Linked DNA regions of Homo sapiens: region 1 is linked to region 2. The links come from fine-mapping of genetic effects on gene expression. Tissue or cell type: whole blood. Region 2 holds a variant in brackets; the other region holds the start of a gene. All regions are shown on one strand. Distances are from middle to middle.

Region 1 (2,684 bases), 310 kb before region 2:
GTGCAAAGTGCACTAAAGTGCACTGGATGTATTTTTTATTCATGTATATACTTTTGTTATCTATCACCCAGGTCAAAATACAGAACCAGCACCCCAGAGGGTTCCCTCCTCCTCCTTCCCAGCCAATAATCTTCTCCTCCTACCTAACCGCTGTTCTTACTTCAATCACTATCAACTAGTTTTACACGTTCTTCAACTGCATATAAATTGTCTCAGTTTTTTACTTAACACTTTTCTTGAAGTGCTTTCGTTTTTTGCCACTTTTTATTTGACCTAAGAAATAACATTAATGAAACAGTGGTTTGACGTGATAGGCATTTCCCTCCTAATGCGCACTAAAAACACTTAACTATTTGAAAAAAGAAGTTTCTTCGTGTACCAACTAATATATTCTCCGCCCTGTCTCCAGAAACCGCCCTTCCTCTGTGGGCCGGTGGTTACCGGCACCATTGGTACACGGACCACATTTTGTTTCCCAAAGCAACCAGATGATTTTTGAGGTCCTTTGCAGCTCGAACACGGAATGACTTTGTGGTGATCGAGTAGCCAGAAGTTCACGGAATGCACTGTCACAATTGTGATTCCGCCATAGCGCCGTGCATCCATCCAACACTTGTTTAATACCTATATTTAATACCTAATACCTTAGACGGTCCTAGGCTGTGGACACAGAAGACTAAACCCCACTTCCTGAGTTGAAGTGGGGGAAATAGAGGAGTAAATCATTTCACGATGTGTGGTTAAGTGCTGCAGCTCAGGTAACCACCAGTACACAGAGGAAGGGCGGTTTCTGGAGACAGGGCGGAGAGGAGACCGTGGGTGGGCATTTCCCAGAGCAGCCTCTGCCAGCCACCCTACTTTGATCACTTTGCCGCCGAGCAGCAGCGGCGGTCAACCTCAGCCTCCCTTAGCAACCTGAGTGCCCCGTCCAGGAGCCTTACTATTGGTCTCATGCAGCGAGATGGGCAGTTCTGCCGTGCAATCCCAGCTCGCAGTTCTTGCTCCGCGTGTACTCACGGGAGGACTCGCAGGCGTTACCGCCTTCCCGCGTGCCCCGCCCACCCTCCCGAGCGTCTTTCGGCGCATGCGCGGACTGGAGCTGTGTGCAGGGCCAGCGCGGAGCCCGAGCAGCCGCGGTGAAGCGCCTGTGCTCTGCCGAGACTGCCGTGCCCATTGCTCGCCTCGGTCGCCGCCGCTTTAGCCGCCTCCGGGGGAGCGGCCGCCTATTGTCTTTCTCCGCGGCGAAGGTGAAGAGTTGTCCCAGCTCGGCCCGCGGGGGAGCCCCGGGAGCCGCACGGTGAGAGCGCAACTTAGTTGGCGGAGTTGGGGGAAGTTTTGTGATTTGTGGGTCGGGGCGCGGAGCGCGGCCAGTCCCCTGCGGTTGCTCGGTGGGGCGGGCCCCGGAGGAGGGGCGGGGGCTGCGGGGGTTTCGGGGGCGGGCTGGACAGACGGGTCGCCGGGCGGCGCCGGGACCTCAGGTCTGCGGACCCCTCCTCCCTGCGCATCGCCCTTCTCCCGCATTGTCTGCTTGGGGCTCGGCGCGCCTCCCACTCCGCAGCCCAACTTAGAGGCCGTCGCCGCTTTCCGGGTGGGGGGCGCGCCCGGCCGCCGATGCTACCTCAGGCGCTCCGCCCCCAGCGAGGCCCCGAATCCTTGCCCCGGGTCCCCGGGTCGGCGCCGCCGGGGCGGGCTCACTCCTCCCCTGGGGCGGGCGGCCGCGGTGTGGAGTCCCCGCCGTGGAGTCCGCGCCGTGAACAAGTGCTGCGGGCGCGAGGGAGCGGCTCCCCGGGGTCGACGCGGACGGTAAACACGTCGGGCCGCGCCTGCCTGTCGGTGCCTCTCCGCGGCTTCTCGGGGGTGCGGCCCAGCTGACCCGCGCGGGTCGCAGGCGAGCGGCCCAGGAGACCCGTGCGGTCCCCACGCGCTCTGGGACCCGTGCAGCCAGCCGGCTCAGCTTGCAGCTATACTTTGATACCAAACAAAACTTTTTTTTTTTTTTTTGGTAAATACGGTTTACTGCTTTTTTTTTTTTTTTTTTTTTGCAAAGCCACGAAGTATGTGAAGTTGAAAAAAGGAAAAACCCTAAAACTTTTTAAAAAAAAATCAAGAAAGGGGGTAGATAGGTTTGTTTTGTTTTGGAAATAGTTCTTATAGCAGAGTGATACCGTCCCATTTAATTTTCTAGATCCCGGAATTCACAATGAAAATTGGATTGAGCGGTATTTTGGTGTTCATTCTTTGCTAATGACACTCCTTAATGAAGTTATTTGGAGAGTTTATTGCTTCAGTACAGTAAAAACCAGTGTGCCTTTTTTTTTGTTAGTAGTCCCCCCCACAACAAGTGTTTTATTTTTAGAAGAAGCATTTTCTTCAGTTTTTCTGAACTGTTGGATTGCGCAGATGAGGACAAACGGTGCAGTTCTTGAAAGGTCATTATTGGCAAGTTTGTGAAGAAGCTAAGATCAGTTGAGATAAATCATTGTTACTATTCTTGTATTCTGTCGTGGACTCTTGGGGATTTGCAGGCTGCATTAAGTACAAGTTTTGTCAAGTTTGGGTGCACATATTACACTTAATTTGGTTTGTGTGGCTTATTATATGAACATGATTCTGTTTCAGTTCCCCAGATGGAACTAGCTTAAATGTCTGTCATTCATAGTGGAGCAAAATGGCCAGAGTGTCAT
Region 2 (2,684 bases):
CCTGCACCCCTAGGTACTCAGGGTAGAGGAGTGAGCTACTAAGCCTTGGGACTTCCTTTCCCTGGAACCCCATTTTTTTAAAGGAAGTGACCCTGTTGGTATCTAGCTTGAGGAACAACAAAGGTGGTTTTTGAGAAAAATTATTAACAAGGCTCCTTCCTGTCATCCGTGCATTCTCCTATCCTCCCTGCCCTGCACCGTTGTCCTTTAGCCACTCCCCAATTTCTTCTATCTTCCCTGCTCACATCAAAACTTCCTTTCCCTTACTGCAAGCAATACCTTTCTGTGTTGGCTTAGGAGAATAATGAGCTAATGAAACTCATTTCCAGTAAATTATGAGTAATTAATAATATTGCTAAGCATTATTGTGTATTCACTGTGTGCCAGGCACTGTGCAAAATGCTTTAGAAATGTATTATCTCACCTAATTGTCATATGTTTTAAAAAACATATGAGATGGGTACTTTTGTGATTACTCCCATTTGACAAATGAGAAAACTAAGGCTCAGAGAAATAATTTACCTAGGGTCACGCTATTACTGAGTAGTAGTAGTGGTGGTGGTGGTGATGGTGGTGGTGGTGGTGGTGGCAGTAGTGGTAGTAGTGGTAGTAGTACCTGAATCTGAACCGAGGTCTGGTACCATCGTCCGTATTCTTAACCACTGTACGGTTTTCCAGCCTCCCCTTCTTATCAGTCTCCTCTTGCCGGTTTGAAAATTAGGGCAAAGTTAATATTTACAAACCTTAAAATTCTAATTAGCAGAAACTGAAAATGTATATGTGGGGCATATTTAATATTTCTAACTAGAGTAAAGGAGGAGACTTTATACATACTCCGTCACTTAGGGATATGCAATTGATGTGAGAAAGAGAGGAGCCTCGGTAATTTTTCATGCCACCCAGGCATCTTTTTTTCCCTCAGGCTGATCCCAGAATTGCTGCCACCCTTTTTTCTGCCCTCTGCCTAAAGCTGGCCCTAAACCCATGACTCTCTTCCTGTGTGGACTGTGCTGTAGCTTGCTGAGGAAGGGCTGTACTGAGGTGTCAGAAGCCTCCTTGCAGTGCTGGTCCTTGGGTATTGTGTCTGTTGGTAGAAGTAACCAATGAATAAGCCACTGCCAGAACTGTTCCGCCTGCCCAGTTTTCGTGTGAATTTTCTAATGTAGCTTGCGTGCCAACGCCTTAATTTAAAAAAACAAAACAAAACACTTTGCCCAGAACTTTGTTTCTCACTCCTTTCCAAAATAGTCACCAGCTGTTGTTAACCACATGCCATCTGGGTGCCCAGGTAAGGAGAAAGCCCTCCAGTGTTCAATTAACTGTGGATTATTTTCTTTTCTTCGGCAGGAAAAGGAAAAAGAAAAAGATAAGATTAAGGAGAAGGAGAAAGATTCTAAAGACAAGGAGAAAGATAAGAAGACTGTCAACGGGCACACTTTCAGTTCCATTCCTGTTGTGGGTCCCATCAGCTGTAGCCAGTGTATGAAGCCCTTCACCAACAAAGATGCCTATACTTGTGCAAGTAAGAGACATGCTTCTTCCTCTCGTAAG[A/G]TGGAACTCTCTTGGCTCAAGAAAGCTCATTTCTTGTTTCCTGTCCCCACTCATTATCTGTTCCTCATTTATGTGGAGAAGTAACCCTTTTTATATCTTTCTTTAGACATGATAAAAGAAAGAAATTCTAGATGTATAACATACAGCCTATATTTTTTTCAGACAGCCCCAATTTCAAATACAGTCAAGTTAAGATGGTTCAGCCTAGCTTTTTAACTTTACAGTGGTTCAAAAGCAATACACGTTCAGTAGAAACTGTACTTTGAGTGCTGGTACACTCATTTCGTTTTTCACATTTAGTGCAGTATTCAATAAATTACATGAGATAGTCAACACTTTATCATAAAACTGGCTTTGTGCTAGATAATTTTGGCCAACTATAGTCTAATGTAAGTGTTTTGAGCATGTTTAAGATAGGCCAGGCTAAACTATGATGTCCAGAAGGTTAGGTGTATTTAAATGCATTTTTGACTTAATAGTATTTTCAATTTACCATGGGTTTATGTGGATGTAGCCTCATTGAAAGGATGAGGAGCATCTGCACTCTGTTCTATGATCTCTAAACCACTGCACGTTTTAAAAGTCTGTGTCAGCATCAAAATTATCCATAACCCCAAACCCTAAAGCTACTCAGTGGTCTTCTGTTAGATCATATGTGCTCATTTTTATTCTATTACTTTGGTATATGCTTCAGCCATTACCAACATTAAGCCATAGTGACGGCCAAGGGAGAGCACCTCCGTGCTCAGGGACATTCTGTGCTGACCTGCTGAAAGCCAAGTCTGCTAACTGAGCATTGTTCCTGGTTTTGATAAGACACTCTCAGGCAGGAGTTGCTTAACTTTTTCTGTACAAGACCAGATAAAAAGTATCTTAGGCATCGTGACCCACATGGTCTCTGTCACAATTCTTGAACTCTGCAGTTGCAGTGCAAAAGCAGCCGTAAGCAATACATAAACCAATGAGTGTGATTCCAATAAAACTTCACTTATGGATACTGAAATTTGAATTTCATAAAATTTTTGTTATGTAATAGTTTTTTGATTTTTAAAAACTATTTAAAATGTAAAAATTATTCTTAGCTCATGGGCTATACAAAAATAGGCTTCAAGCCACATTTAGCCCACAGACCA

The links. PIP is the estimated chance that this variant, and not a neighbour inherited with it, causes the effect.
Region 1: AKAP13 starts here. The variant in region 2 is fine-mapped to the expression of AKAP13 in whole blood (TOPMed, PIP 0.93).

The regions. Positions count from the first base shown.
Region 1 is chr15:85,379,502-85,382,185 of GRCh38, forward strand. AKAP13 (A-kinase anchoring protein 13) reads left to right here and starts at 1,102. Exons shown (of 37, transcript NM_007200.5): 1 at 1,102-1,297. MIR7706 (microRNA 7706) reads left to right here and starts at 1,095; the gene lies at 1,095-1,161. RefSeq lists silencers at 953-1,032, 1,413-1,982, 1,639-1,806.
Region 2 is chr15:85,691,930-85,694,613 of GRCh38, forward strand. It overlaps AKAP13 (A-kinase anchoring protein 13), which reads left to right. Exons shown (of 37, transcript NM_007200.5): 17 at 1,348-1,522. Among named protein-coding and RNA genes, the nearest start is that of LINC02883, 65 kb to the right of the region's middle. RefSeq lists enhancers at 801-850, 1,291-1,340. The variant A/G (reference allele first, on the strand shown) is at 1,552.